Linked DNA regions of Homo sapiens: region 2 is linked to region 1. A link means that fine-mapping ties the variant in region 1 to the expression of a gene that starts in the linked region. Tissue or cell type: lung. Region 1 holds a variant in brackets; the other region holds the start of a gene. All regions are shown on one strand. Distances are from middle to middle.

Region 1 (8,496 bases):
GGAGCTTGCAGTGAACCAAGATCGCGCCACTGCACTCCAACCTGGGCAACGGAGCGAGACAGTGTCTCAAAAAAAAAAAAAAAAAAAAAAGGGGAGTCAGGCTTTGGTCCAATAACTCATTAAAAGATTATTATTATTATTATAATTATTATTATTATTATTATTATTAGTTTGAGACGGAGTTTCGCTCTTGTTGCTCAGGCTGGAGTGCAATGGCATGATCTCAGCTCACCGCAACCTCCGCCTCCTGGGTTGAAGCGATTCTCCTGTCTCAGCCTCCCGAGTAGCTGGGATTACAGGCATATGCCACCACGCCGGCCTAATTTTGTATTTTTAGTAGAGACAGGGTTTCTTCATGTTGATCAGGTTAGCCTCAAACTCCTGACCTCAGGTGATCCGCCTGCCTCGGCCTCCCAAAGTGCTGGGATTACAGGCGTGAGCCACTGCGCCCGGAAAGACTTATTCTTTCTTATTCTTATTCTTATTCTTATTCTTATTATTTTGAGATGGAGTCTCGCTCTGTAGCCCAGGCTGGAGTGCAGTGGTGCGATCTCGGCTCACTGCAAGCTCCGCCTCCCGGCTTCACGCCATTCTCCTGCCTCAGCCTCCCAAGTAACTGGACTACAGGCGCCCACCAACACGCTCGGCTAATTTTTTTGTGTTTTTAGTAGAGACGGGATTTCACCGTGCTAGCCAGGATGATCTCGATCTCCTGACCTCGTGATCCGCCCGTCTCGGCCTCTCAAAGTGCTGGGATTACAGGCGTGAGCCACCGCGCCCGGCCTAAAAGATTATTTTATATTAGGGAAGTGTTCTCAGCCTCCTGTTCATTTGCCCTTGCTTATTTTGATTTTGTGTATTATGCAGCACAAACATTCACTGCCTTTTCTTTTCTTTTTTTTTTTTTAGACAGAGACTCGCTCTGTCACCCAGGCTGGAGTGCAGTGGTACGATCTCGGCTCACTGCAACCTCCCCCTCCCAGGTTCAAGTGATTCTCCTGCCTCAGCCTCCTGAGTAGCTGGGATTACAGGTGCAGGACACCACGCCCGGCTAATTTTAGTATTTTTAGTAGAGACAGGGTTTCACCATGTTGGTCAGGCTGGTCTTGAACTCCTGACCTCGTGATCCACCCGCCTCGGCCTCTCATAGTGCTAGGATTACAGGTGTGAGCCACCCTGCCCGGCCTGCCTTTTCTACCCTTAGGGACACTATGCTGTATTAACTATCTTCACAGCTCTGTAGGTTAAGCCCCCTCTGCTTACATAGCCAGATAATCATTATTGTATGGCTTGTCACCCATGTTTTCAACTTAAAAACACATGAATCATCACACAAACATTTTACAACGTCATCCGCACCATAGAGATTTTTAAAACATCTATCTCAAGAACTCATATAAAAACCAGAAATTTTTAGCAATTATATGTCACTTTGTTTCAGAGACTCCTTGAGCACTCATACCACTCAAGCTGGGGTCCTCCTTGCCAGCTTGGCAGTGAGTAATATAGTTGTCAAATCACATTTTACCATCTGCTTTCACAGACCTCTTCTGATACCAGCTGTGAAAGTTTGGGATCGCTGGAAAGCAAACACTAAGATGCATTACAAGTGCAAGGGGTTATTGACAATAATGCCCATAACAATAAACAAAGAGGAGAAGGAAAGATGAATGCAGTAAGAGATTTCAGACCATGATGTGGGTCTGGCATGGGCAAAATTAGAGAAGGAAGAAAGTAGGATTGGGTAGAAAAACCCTGAGGTTTTGGCACAGCTCTGAGAAAGTCTCGTCCAGCTTTGGTATAGAAATTGCTCATAGATAAGACCCCAGTCAAGCGGAAATGGCCAGGCTTTAGCGTACACCCACTCTGCTCACCAAGAAGAAAACAACCTCAGTTTGAACACTGTAGAAGACGGTAAAAGTGCTGTAGCTGAAGATGGTAAAAGTGCCTTGGAGGCTGTCAGCTGACAGCATTTCTTGCAACTGAAAACAAGTTCTTCCTTGAAGGAAGATCTGAGCAGCGCACCTCCATGGCCACAGAAATTTTACAATACACATTTAATGATATTTCAGTATAGATAAAGATTATTTAAACAAATCTATTTACCTAAATGACAAATATAGAACACTACACTCAACTAAAAATATATATTATTTATTTATTAAAAGATATTGTATTGTGTATATTTGATGCTTACAACATGATGCTATGAAATATATGTAGATAGTAAAATGATTGTTCCAATGAGGCAAATTAACATGTATCATCTCACATAGTTACATTTTTTTTGGACAAAACATCTAAACTCTACTCATTTAACAAAAATCCCTAATATAATACAATTCAATTCACTAGAGTCTCCATGTTGTACATTAGCTCTCTAGACTTGTTCATGCTACATATCTGCTACTTCGTATCCTTTAACCTACATTACCCTATTTCTTTTCTCCTCAGCTACCCCTGGCAACCAATTTTTTATTCTCTCTGTATGTTTGACCTTTTTTTTTTTTTAAATATATATCCACATATAAGTAAGATCTCATAGTATTTTTCTTTCTATGTCTGGCTTATTTCATTGAGCATAATATCTTCCAGGGTCATCCATGTTGTGGCAAATGGTAGAATCTCCTTTTTTAAGGCTGAGTAATATTATACACACACACACACACACACACACACACACACACACACACACACACACACACACAGATTCTTTATCCATTAATCTATTGACAAACATAGTTTGTTTCCATATCTTGGCTATTATGAATAGTGCTTCAGTGAATGTGGGAGTACAGATGTCTTTTACGAGGTAGTAATTGTATCTCCTTTGGGTTTATATCCAGGAGAGGAATTGCTGGGTCATATGGTAGTTCTATGTTTAATTTCTTTAGAAACATCCATGCTGTTTTCCATAATGACTGCACAAATCTACATTCTCACCAACAGTGTACTAGGGTTCTCTTTTCTCCACACCCTTGCCAACATTTGTTGTCTCTTGTCTTTTTGATAATAGCCATCCTAACAGGTGTAAAGTTATATCTTATAGTGGTTTAATATTGCATTTTCCTGATGATTAATGTTGTTGAGCACATTTTCATATGCATATTGGCCCTTTTATGTCTTCTTTGAAGAAATTGTTCAGATCCTTTGCACATTTTTCATGAGACTGTAGTGCTGCCAGCTGTGCTCAGAAGGTAAGTCTCTTTGACCATTTTTTAATCAGGTTATTTGTTTTTCTGCTATGGAGTTATAAGTGTTCTTTATAAATTTTGAATATTAACTCCTTTTCCCCAGTCTGTAAGTTGCCTTTTTATTTTGTTGATTGTTTTCTTTGCTGTGCAGAAACTTTGTAGTTTGGTGTGGTCCCATTTATTTATTTTTGTTGTGTATCCTGGACATTTGGCATGATATCCAAAAAAATTATTGCCAAGGCCAATGACGAAGAGCTTTCCCCCTGTTTTCTTATGGAAGTTTTGTGTTCAGGTCTTACATTTAGGTGTTTTATCCATTTTGAGTTGATTTTTGTGTATGGTATAAGAGTCTAATTTCATTATTTTGCATGTGGAAATCCAGTTTTCCAAGCATCATTTATTGGAGATTCTTCTTCTTTTTTTTTTTTAATTCTCTATGTCTTTTTTTTAATTTTTTTTTTAATAGTATTTATTGATCATTCTTGGGTGTTTCTCGGAGAGGGGGATTTGGCAGGGTCATAGGACAATAGCGGAGGGAAGGTCAGCAGATAAACATGTGAACAAGGGTCTCTGGTTTTCCTAGGCAGAGGACCCTGCGGCCTTCCGCCGTGTTTGTGTCCCTGGGTACTTGAGATTAGGGAGTGGTGATGACTCCTAACGAGCATGCTGCCTTCAAGCATCTGTTTAACAAAGCACATCTTGCACCGCCCTTAATCCATTTAACCCTGAGTGGACACAGCACATGTTTCAGAGAGCACGGGGTTGGGGGTAAGGTTATAGATTAACAGCATCCCAAGGCAGAAGAATTTTTCTTAGTACAGAACAAAATGGAGTCTCCCCTGTCTACTTCTTTCCACACAGACACAGTAACAATCCGATCTCTCTTTCTTTTCCCCACATTTCCCCCTTTTCTATTCGACAAAACCGCCATCGTCATCATGGCCCGTTCTCAATGAGCTGTTGGGTACACCTCCCAGACGGGGTGGCGGCCGGG[C/A]AGAGGAGCTCCTCACTTCCCAGACGGGGCGGCCGGGCAGAGGCGCCCCCCACCTGCCAGACGGGGCGGTGGCCGGGCGGGGCCCCCCCCCCACCTCCCGGACGGGGCGGTTAGCCGGCCGGGGGCTGCCCCCGACCTCCCTCCCGGACGGGGCGGCTGGAGATTATTCTTTCCCCCATTGTGTCCTCTTGATGCCCTTATCAAAAATTAGTTGGCAGTATATGTTTGAGTTTTTTTCTGGGCTGTCTATTCTGTTGCATTGGTCTGTTTCTGTTTCTATTCAGGAATGATTATGCTGCTATCAGAACAATATGTCTTGATTATTTTAGCTTTATAATATAATTTTAAAGCAACAAGTGTGATGCCTCCAACTTTGTTTTTCTTTCTCAGTATTGCTATGGCTATTTGGTGCATGTGTGTGTGTGTGTGTGTGTGTGTGTGATTCCATATGAATTTTAGGATTATTTTTTCTACCTCTGTGAAGAATGTCCCTTTGGAATTTTGATAAGGACTGTACTGAATTTGTATATTGCTTTGGATGGCATGGACATTTTAACATTATTAACTATTCTAATTCATGAACATTGGATATCTTTCCATTTATTTATGTTGTCATTAATTTCTTTCAACATTTTATAGTTTTCAGTGTAAAAATCTTTCATCTCCTTGGTCAAATTTATTCCTAAGTATTTTATTTTTTGATGCTATCATAAGTGAGATTGTTTTCTTGATTTGTTTTTCAGTTAGGTCATTATGTTTATATAGAAATGCTACTGATTTTTTTATGTTGATTTACATATTATTTTTAAATACCCTTGGTGGGCCCTAATGCAAGTCTTTAAAAATGTACAAGGATTGAAATGACACAGAATATATTCTGTGGGCCCAGCATAATAAAAATAAAATCAATATCAGAAATAAAATGGAAAACCCCAAAATGTTACTAAATGAAAAAACACTCATCCAAAGCCATAGCTTAAAGAAATCACATTTAGTTAAAATGAAAGATAAAATAAGATATATAAAAATTTGTGTAATGCAGCTAAACTGTGCCCAAAGTCTAATTTATAGTTCTACTTGCATATATTAGAATAAAGATGTTTCAATATTTGATGTTAAAGCTTTTTTCTCAATAATTTAGAGGAAAAGAGCAAATTAAAATGTTAGAAACAAGATTATAAAAAGATAGAACACACACACACACAAACAAACAGAGAATATCAACAAAGCCATAAACAGGCATTTAGGGATGATTGACAAAACTATTGTTCTAAATCAAGGATTGTTCAACAAAACGAAGAGAAAACAGAAAATACTAATACCAGGAATAAATATAGGATAACATTACATTTTAGTATATAGACATCAAGAATATACTAAGAATACAGTATGAACAATGTTTTGTAAATAGATTTGACAATTTAGGACAGATTTCCTTCAAGAGATGATTTACCAAAACTGACAGAATAAGGAATTAAGACCTTGAGTTTACTCCTCATCTCTCTTTCTTCTACCTGGAAACCACACTAAGTGAGTAAATCTACTTTTTGTTTCCCAGAATCGTTAGTGAAGCTCAGATAAGCATTCAAAGGGCATTTAAATAAGTGGGGACTTAAAAAAGAAAAAAAAAAGGTAGTAAAAATCTACCTTTGATTTGAGATGCAGGGGGAGTCCTTTACTGGAGGTCAAAGGGGGAGTTGTCAAGGGGAAAAGATGAAGTTTCTTAGAGGCAATACCAGGCTCTCAAACTGACAATAAGTGGATTTCTAGTGTATCCTCTTACTAAGTGTAGCCTCTTACTGGGCTACCACTGAAATACTAGTGCATTTCCTTTCAGTAAATAGAAGTGCATCTCATTCCTTTTATCAATTGCAGAATCTTCCATTATATGGATCTTCCAAAATTTATTTTAAAAGTCAAACATCGATGGCCATTTGAGGTTGTTCAAATCATTGCTATAACTCAAAATTCTGCAGCAAATGTTAGAGCTTGTCGCAATTGTTGCGGGTGTTTCCTGGAACACCATCAGAAGCGGATGGAGCAGGAAGCTTGGTCTCTGGGAATGCCTCCCCGCGTAGTCTCCTTCCATCAAAACATCAGAATAAGGGGTCCTCCTAGGTCCGAGGATAAAGTGTTACTTGTCAGTTTACCACAACAGCATGATAGTCATCTAACTGATGTCAAAAAATAAGAAACATTGACAGCGAATACACTTTTTGGCAGAAAATTTGACCTTTCCAAGGGAGCTAAAGTTCAGTACAGTGACTTATGCTAATGGACAAAGTGTCCTTCACGTAGTCGTGGCCGAGTGGTTAAGGCGATGGACTAGAAATCCATTGGGGTTTCCCCACGCAGGTTCGAATCCTGCCGACTACGGTCCCTTTCTTGTTGGAAAGGGAGTCTACTGACACCTTGCCAGATTGAAAGTCCGGTGTCTTGCCAGGTTGAAAGTCTGTTATTGTCTCTCAGGAAGAAGCTTGCTTGTTCCAACCTGTAGGCTTTTCCTCTTTATGGACCCACTAAAAATACTCCATGTCTCTGAAACAATGAGGAAAAGTCATACAAAAAAAAGTACTTCTATCACAGTCGTATTATTGATGTTTTCCTTTGCCCTAAGAAGAGCTCAGGGTGATGTTTTTCTGTTTCCTGAAACAGATGCCCCATTTTGAAGACAGCTTTCCTTAGAGAAAAAAATTGCTAGGAGTGTTTGTGTCTCACAGAATTGTCCCCTTATTAGGGATCTTCTCCAGTCAAGCAAATGCCCTGGTTTAACGTAGAAAAGGAAATTCCAGGAAATCCATGATCAAATACAAGAGAAAGTGGCACACAGGCATGGTCACCAAGATGAGAATCTATATTGGGCATTTATAAGCAAACCACTACATAATAAAAGATTATTGAGTAAAGCAATTTTTTACATAACCCAATTAAAAAAAAATCAACCATGTCAAGTGGAGTGGCCTGTCCTGGGGTCCAGGACAGTGGTGAAGCAAGAGTGACTAAAACCGAGGTGAGGTTGCGATTATATCCTGAGCACAGAAAGAGCCCCAGCTCAGATGCAGAATCTCATTGTGATGAACAATTATGGGTTAACGCATTGACCAAAAGAATGTTGACCACAGCTGAGTATCTTCCTAGGAATTCCTAGGGGAATTCACGCATCACTGCCTTGGCAGCTTAAGTGGAGCTTGTCCTCACCTCTCTTCTGCAAATCTTCAAAGAGTTGTGATTTATTTTACCTCATCCAAGAATGATTCTAATATTTTTTCATAAACAGAGTGCCGGCCCTGTTCATTGATAAAATACCAGATCCTTTCTTCTTTTATGTGTCTCTTTAGAGCACTGCATTTCAAAATTAGTGGGGCAGTGAGAGTAAACTGCCACAAATCCTCTACTGAGCAGTGCAGGCAGGAGGAACAAGACTTGTCTCAGTGTACGGAGATTCAGGTTTCCAGAGGAGGAGCCTGATCAGTTCTCCTACCCTCTCCCACATCCAGCATGCAGGTTCCTTTGATTCGGAAAAACAATCTAATAGAATTCTAGAATGTGAAAGCTAATGAAATGCTAAAGCCCTTTTGAGGAAATAATTCCTAATAGTAGAGTTAAGTATTCCATCTGACATATATGATCAGAAATTGAAAATATAAATTTGTTCAAAAAGATATCTTAAATGGGTGGGCGCAGTGGCTGACGCCTGTAATCTCAGCACTTTGGGACACCGAGGCAGGTGGATCACCTGCAGTCAGGAGTTCAAGACCAGCCTGACCAACACGGAGAAACCTCGTCTCTACTAAAAACACAAAAATTAGCCGGGCATAGTGGCGTGTGCCTGTGATCTCAGCTACGTGGGAGGGTGAGGCAGGAGAATCGCTTGAACCCCAGAGATGGAGGTTGCAGTGAGCCGAGATCGCGCTGCTGCACTCCAGCCTGGGGGACAAAGCAAGACTCCGTCTTAACAATGATAACAACAGAAACATATCTTAGAGAGGAGTGTTGGTAGCATAAATAGGAGCTTCTCTCCTTCTGGATGCTTTTTTCTGGAAAGCCCATGCAGACTCAAGTTCAGGTTCTGGGGCTGGAGCAGAGATCTTGAGCAAGGATTGATCTTACAGAATTTTGCCTTGTAGAAGAACAGCATTTGATCTAGTTTCTGAATAATGCCATCGAGTTCTAGAAGGGTTTTGTTTTGTTTTGTTTTGTTTCTCTTCCTACTACTAAGGAAGAGAAAAGATGTCTTATAGACAAGAACGTAACATGGAAAACGAGACACACTGATGGACAGTGTCATGAAAACCAGTGTTACAGTCA
Region 2 (8,000 bases), 810 kb after region 1:
CCACCATGAACTGTCTTTATCCTTAATGCATAGCACAGTGCCTGGCCCACTGTCAGTGCTCCATAAATGTTTTCTGGGCAAATAAATATATTCTCCCCTCCTATATCCCCTTTCACTTCATCAAGCCATGGTAAGGACAGGGAAAGGAACACAGAAGGGAAAATACACTCTTTCTTCTTGTCCCCCAAACCACCCCTGTTCCCAGGATGTATATGCATTACCCTGTGTTCCCAGCCAGTCCTCCCATCTCTTCCTATCTCCTCTCCCAAACTGCTACAGATTACAGACACTTCTTATTTTTAAAATGCCTAGAAGACTTAGAAGTCTGGACTTACCACAAAATTATGAACGCATCTTCAATGTTTTGTTTACCTGATTTATTCGATTAAATGCAAATTTGGTGTCATCTGATATCCTAGCAGGGAACAAATACTTGATAGACATCTGACAAATTAAATGGAATAAACTATTTAAAATGATCTTTACTGAAGCACTGCAGTACAGTGAATAACGTTCAAATCCTGTGGCCTCTCTAAGTGTTAATGACCATAGTACTCCTCTTATAGGTGTTATGATTATACAAGGTAACGCATATAAAAAGCTTAGCGCAGTACCTGGCCCATAGCAATCATTACATAAATATCAATGAGCAGGTATTATTAGTAAAGTAGTATTAGTAAATTGAATATCTTCATTTCATAGAGGAAATAGACCCAACAAAATAAAATATTGACTTCATATGTTAATAGTCAGTAGACAGTTGAAAATACTAGAAGAAATATTCAAGAAAATCCAGGACAGACTGTGACCAGTGGTGACCTCCCATTTGTGTACTGAAGCCCATCTCTAGATACCACCAGGGGTGTCCCCCTGAACATCCCAACAACAGCTCAAAAGCAACATTAAAGATTGGATTTAGATTTCCAGGGTGATATGAAACAGGCCAATTTATGATTAATTACCAAATTGACTCCAAACATTTGGCATTGGGAGATGATATATAAAAGGGGATAAAGAGAAAGACATGGCCAGCTACAAATACAAGACAAAAATCTCAGTGGACCAGAAACACAAACACAGAGTAGTTAGTGGAGTTGATGACTTGACTGCAGAAACAGTCAAAGACATCCTAGAATTCAACTCCTGGGGGATTAAATGTGGTGTGTCTCAGGTTGTAGGGAACCAGGCTCACTGTTTCATTCCAGGACCTGCAGTGGACTTCCACACTCATGAAAGGGAGACAGAAAAATAAAAGGTAGTTGACTGCTGACTCAGCTTATGACTTTATCAGCAACTAAGGCCCAGGAGGCAAGGGACAAGGAGAGACTCATTACTAGTAACTAACCTATTTATTTGCTCATTTAGTCAATAAATGTTCATTGAGCACTCATAACATACCAGGTACTTGGCTGGGCATTAGGGCTACAATGGTGAAAAAGACGGGACCAGGCCCTGTTTTGCTGGAGCAAACATTTTAACGGGGAAGACAAACCAAAAATAAAAGCAACAACAAAAATAAGTAAGGAGGCAAATAAAATAATTATGAGTTGTGATGATTACTGAGGATAATAAACTAGGCACTGAGTTACCAAATAAATGGACAGCCTATTTAGATGGGGTAGTGGGAAGTGAGGTAACATTTAAGCCAAGCCCTTAAGTGCAAAAGAAGTGAGCCATACAGAATAGGGATGAGGGAGGGGAAGAGCACTCTGGACTATCCAAAGGCCCTGAGGAAGTGCATGCTGCCATCAAAGACAGGAAAGGAGGCTGGAGTGTCTACAGTCATGTGGGAGAAGAGTGGCAAAATATTAGGCTGGCAAGCCAAGCAGGAGTCAGATCATGTAGGGCATAGGAGTTAGGATTTTATAAATGCAATGAGAAACCACTGAAGGCTTTAAGAAAGGGAGTGACAAGGCTGAATTCTGTACCGAGAAGCTCTGCTACTGGATGGAGAATGAGCTGAGGGAATGAGGGTAGAGGCAAAAGTGGAAGCAGAAAGCAAGAGTAGAAGCAGAAGAGGCAAGAGTTAAAAAAAAGGGTAAAGTGGAGGGGGTGAAGACTATTGCACTGAATCTAGAAAGACTTCCACTTAGTTTAGATGTTACTGTACAAGTGAAAGGAGAAAGAGCTTAACCTTTGTAAAAGCAGTTCAGTCACTGGACAATCAATTTATGGAGCTGAGCTAAGAGCTTGGAATATAGAGGTGTTTATAGCTCATGAGGATATAGTTACAATACAATAAAATAAAAGCCATAATTTAAAAAATGTATACAAGGTATACCCCTGGAGGAAGTGGAAGAGCTCATCCTAAATACAAGATTAAGTTTTTATGCATTGCCTGTAATCCACAAAGGAATTCATTTCACATATATTTACTAAGTGTTTACGAGGTGTCAGACAGCAAAGAGTGAAACAATGCAGAATTTGATGTGTCCCCACTGTCCTTCACCGAAATAAAAACATGGCAGAAAGAGCATAAAAGAGAATGTTTTCATTCATGAGAATGTTTTCATTCACGTCAGCATAATTAACAACAGCAACAAAGAGATCATGTAAATCACAAATCATGTGTGTTGTAAAATAAATCCCAAAGGATACCAATTACGATGACAAGAAAACAGAAGAAGACCTTAAATACCATGAGGAAACAGTCAAATCCAGAAATGGGGATGCACTACAGGAAGACTGGAAGAGCCTCCTTTTAAACAAGGCAATGGGATGGGAGGAAGGGAGGCAAAGAGTAAAATTGCCCTAGGTTAAGACTCAACTACATGCAGTGAGTGGTCTATGATTGGATCCTAGTTGGTACAAACAGGTATAAAAGACATCTGTGGGACAACAGGGGGTGGAAGGATTTAAACATGAACTAGGTGTTAGGTGAAGCGCCTACACTTAGTTGGGTGTGCTAATAATCTTGTGGTTATGTAGGGAAATGTCCCCAATTTTTAGAGATGCATTAGAAACTAGAGGTGACAAGTTATGAGGTTGGTGGTTTTTACAATATTTAAAGAAAACATATGCGACAAACATTGCATAATGTTGACTTATTAAATAAAAATTACGTGTATATAGGAAATAAGGCTTTTGACAGGGAGAGACCCTTCTCTACCTCTGGACCTCGGTTTCGCCGCAAAGCTCCGACCTCTCTAGGGGTCTCTCCCACCACCCTGTGAAAGGGCTACCTAGCTTGCCTTAGGTGGATAGCAAGGGAAGGGTCCCTGGAGAGCCTGCCCCCGCCCATGATTTAGTGTCTTATCCCCACATAACATAAAACTAAGCCTGGGGAAAAAATCAGGTTGCAGGCACCGATAAGGGAACTAGCACAGGGTGTTGTGCCTAGAGATATGCCCACGGCTGCATAGATAGAAAAACCTCGGGCCCATTTGGATAAAAACTTGCACAGAACCTCCAGCTCACTCAGATAAGGGAACAAGGCCTGACACATAATGCCTTTGTCCTTTGTATAGTCAGCAGGTTCCCAGGAAAAGTTTCTTCTCCTTTTGTGGGTATGGACACGGTGGGTTCTGGTAGGTTCCGGCAGGCGCTCTACTTTCCTTTATTAGGACTATAAGCCCAGCTTCTGTGAATCATCACCTCAGCCCCTGATTGGTCCGGGGCCAAACTTTCACTTCGGCTTCTGATAGGTCCTGGGCCAAGCTAAGCAGCAGCTATGAATCATCATTTCAGCTCCTGATTGGTCCCGGACCAAGCTGAGTCAAGCGTTCGCCAGGACAGCCCGCAGACTAAGCGCATTCCCTCTCCTTTCCAGTCCATAAAAACCCCAGAACGGGCCCCATAATGGGTACTCCCGGTCGGGACCCCTTCTCTGCTGGCAGAGAGCTTTTTCCTTTCGCTTATTAAACTTTCGCTCTAACCTCACCTTTGTGTCTGCGCTCCTTTATCGTCTTGGAGGCAGGACAAAGAACTCCGGGCGTTATCTCAGACAAAGAAAGGCTGTTTAATCTTCAGGATAAGGGGCGGGACCTCCACCTACTCCACGGGGGCTTCAGGCCAGTGAATGTGTAGGGGCGGGGGTCACGCCTGCGCAGACGTTCCCTCCCCGCCTACTCCAAGGCACAGACCTGAAATCTTCTGGGAACCTGGCGGGTCGCGACAAGGGGCCAAGACTCACCTTCGGGGCACCGGCAAGCTACGGAACAGGTGGCGGGGCTGCAGCACCCCAATGACCGATCAACCGCAAAGGCCGGAAATGCGTCAGCCGTTCTGAGCCCACTGGCTGAAGCCAGGCAACTCTTTCCTTTCTAGGAATTCCAGAGGTGGCTGCTGCTTGGTGACTCCCTTATTGCAAACCCCGGGGCCAAAAATCCCAGTCCCACTGGGTGCGAGGCGGAGAAATCCGGCGAGGCATTTCTATGGGGAGCGGCCCCCAGCATTTAGGAGTTAGATGGTCATCGAGACCCAAAACATTAGAGCCGGAAGGTGTTAGGAAGATATAAACGTAGAGAGCGAGTAACAGGAGGCAATTCCACGGCCAAACAGGTTTATTTACAGGAAAAGCCTGCGAAGAGTTCCAGTTAGGAATCTGGCTGAGATCCTGATCGCTTACAAGCTGAGGCTTTTATAATAAAGTTTCTGTTGGGGAGGGGTTGGGGAAGTGCTGGCTAGTTGGAACTGTTTGGACACTTTCCAACTGGGGACAGATGTGGTTAGGGCCGTTAGGCTCTGTTGCGGTTAGAGCTGTTATGCTCTGTTGAAGCTATGGACGGGGTTGACATTTGCTTTGTTTCTTGAGAACACAGTCATCAAGGTTGTAAAATGGCATCACTATTGTTAGTCCTCACAGAAGGGACTTCATACTTTTTCTGTCTCTAATACTTACCTATTCTTCCCCGAGTCTGTCCACTTCCTCTGGTCTCTTTGACATCACAAAGGAGAGATGGTAATGGTGGGGACGAGAATACAGAGTTGTTTTTGTTGTGGTTTTGTTATTTTGTGTTTTACACTCAAACCTCTGTCTTCTGGAATCCCAAAGTCTAGAAGAAGAGCGTGTAAACAAGTAACTGCGTAAAACAGACGTGCATGTGAAATGAAGTAAAATAAAATAAGTGCTTGTAAATCGATGAGAATAGCCTCTGGAACATGCTAAGTACGTATGTAGGAAATAAATGTATGTATTAGTTTGAATTCGTGGCGTGGAAGAGAGAGGAAAACTAATGGGGCAAAACAAGACTCAGCAGGAATCTGCCAGTGTACACTGGAAAAGGAGCAAAGGAAATAAATTTCTGGGAGAGGGAATCAAATGTACAAAAGCAGAACTGGGGTGAAATCCTTTGGTACATCCAAAGAACTGGGCTGATCAGCATGACTGGAGAGTGGTATATGTGGCAGGGGCACCAGCTCTTACTTTTTTTGGATCCCTAACCAAGGAATTTGAGCAGTCTGATCAAATTTACATCTAGAAATGTTATCTTGGCAGCCATGTGGGGATGGACTGTAAGGAAATGAGACTACAGGCAGGGAGACCAGCTAGGAGACTACTACAAGAATCCAGGGTAGAGAGAGTGAGGGCCTGAATCAAGGCAGTAGCAATAGAAATAGAGAAGACAGATAATACATGTTAAGAGGTTGAATTGATTTTTTACAACTCATTCATTAATTATATAGATTCCCATTGAATGCGATCTTTGTGCCAAGGGCTTGCTGGATATAATAATAATGAAGGACACAAGGTCCTCATCCTCATGGGGTTTATAATGTAACAAGGAATACAGACAGAAAGAGACCCAGCTTATACAATTCAAGAGACCTTATTTGAGAAAAGGAATACAAAATTACAAGTACAAACATAGATATGAAAATGGAGACTTAAGTCAGGTGTAATAGCTCACGCCTGTAATCCCAACACTTTGAGAGGCCGAGATGGGAGGATCTCTTGAGTCCAGGAGTTCAAGACAAGCCTGGGCGACATAGTGAGACTCTGTCTCTGCAAAAAATAAAAAATATTATCCAGGCACAGTTACTCATGCTATTAGTCTCAGCTACTGGGGAGGCTGAGCAGGGATAATCACCAGCTGCAGTAGCCATGATCGTGCCACTGCACTCTAGCTTGAGTGACAGACTGAGACCCTGTCTCCAAAATTAAATAAATAAATAAATAAAGAAGGAAAAAGAAAAAAAACAAAAATGGAGATTTAGAATGGAAAATAGGCCAGGCGTGGTGGTTCACGCCTATAATCCTAGCACATTGGGAGGCTGAGGCAGGCAGATTGCATGAGCTCAGGAGTTCAAGACCAGCCTGGGCAACGTGGTGAAACCCCATCTCTACCCAAAATACAAAAATTAGCCAGGCATTGTGGCACATGCCTGTGGGTCTGAGGTGGGAGGATTGCTTGAGCCTGGAAGGTGGGGTTTTCAGTGAGCTGAGATTGTGCCACTGCACTCCAGCGTGGCTGACAGAGTGAGATCCCATCTCGAAAAATAAATAAATAAATATAGAATGGAAAATACATTCTTTACATCACATTACAATTTTTTTTGTAATTGTAATGATAATTACAATTACAAAACGAGACAGAACAGGGTCTCGTTCTGTCAACTAAGCTGGGGTGGAGTGGTGTGATCACTGCAACCTTAAACTCCTGTGCTCAAGCAATCCTCTTGCTTCTGCCTCCCAAAATGCTGGGATTAAAGGTGTGAGCTGCTGCCACCACATCCAGCTATACTACAAATTTTAAAGTCTTCCAAATATCACAAACAAAAATCAGAAAAATAACAAAATATTTTTATTATTTAACTGCCTGACTCCTCTATAGTAACTCTCCCCTAATTTGTTGGCTTTATGTTCTTGGACTGCTTCTTTGTATGTTAATTTCATAATTTAAATTTTTCTAGAAAGAATAAAAAGTTAATGTAGCCATTCCTCTAGCATGGTTGATCAAAAGCTTTTTAAAATTGTTGACATTTGAGTAAACTTCTATCAAGTTTCTTTCAATTATGAGCTACAAGATTTCAGGACATTCAAATTTTTTTATGTGGGGACTAATCTGAGAATCTCTGTGTTGATGACACATTAACTAGTTGGTCTTAGATGTCCTCATTGTCAATGGCATATTATGATGTCTTTGTCAATATCAGTATTTTATGTAAAATGTGCAAGAAATTTAAATCTCTTTTCAATGTGTTCAGTGATTCACTTTTCTTCACTAGAGAATTAATCCAAGAGCATATTTTTTTACTGTATTCAAAGTTTAGCTTTTTTTCTTAATGAGTTGCTGATTTTATATAATTTGACATTGTTTCTTTTGTTATAATTTGCTTCCTGATGTCAGAATAATTTCCATTGATTTTATTATCTTTATTTCTTTTGTTTCTCACATTCCATTAATTTTTTTTGGCAGGGGAGTGGGGAAGGAGTCATGCTCTATTTCCCAGGATGGAGTGCAGTGGCTCGATCTCAGCTCACTGCAACTTCTGCCTCCCAGGTTCAAGCGATTCTCATACCTCGAGTATCTGGGATTACAGGCATGTGCCACCACGCCTGGCAAATTTTGTATTTTTAGTAGAGACGGGGTTTCGCCGTGTTGGCCAGGCTGGTCTCAAACTCCTGACCTCAGGTGATCTGCCCACCTTGGCCTTCCAATGTGCTGGGATTACAGGCATGAGCCACCACGCCTAGCCTCCATTAATTTTTAAATTTAAATTTGCTCTCAGTTCTTTAATAAATTATTTAATTTTGTAATTTAGCATTTATTGCTTAAATCATGCCAAAATATCTTTTCAAATTGTAGTTAAAATGACTTATTTCTAAGATAGTGTCCCCTTACCAGATGCTAAAATTCTCTATTGTTATTTCAGTGCCACTCAACAAGAGAAAAATAAGAGATGGGGAGTCAGAAATGGAAACAAACAGTGGTTTAAACACCTGTTGCTAAAATATCCATTTTTTCCCCTCAAATTTTGCAGGCATATGAACCATGTAAACACATTGCTAGGTATCATTCCAGGCCAGGGCATTTGAAGAAACTGCAAGTGTAGAATCC

The links. PIP is the estimated chance that this variant, and not a neighbour inherited with it, causes the effect.
Region 2: it holds the start of ZSCAN31, and the variant in region 1 is fine-mapped to the expression of ZSCAN31 in lung (TOPMed, PIP above 0.99). The same link has a PIP of 0.9 or more in prefrontal cortex.

Annotation. Positions count from the first base shown.
Region 1 is chr6:27,525,726-27,534,221 of GRCh38, forward strand. It overlaps TRS-AGA3-1 (tRNA-Ser (anticodon AGA) 3-1), which reads left to right and starts at 6,483; the gene lies at 6,483-6,564. The variant C/A (reference allele first, on the strand shown) is at 4,189.
Region 2 is chr6:28,331,950-28,339,949 of GRCh38, forward strand. It overlaps ZSCAN31 (zinc finger and SCAN domain containing 31), which reads right to left and starts at 4,199. Exons shown (of 4, transcript NM_030899.5): 1 at 4,133-4,199. RefSeq lists an enhancer at 3,745-3,864.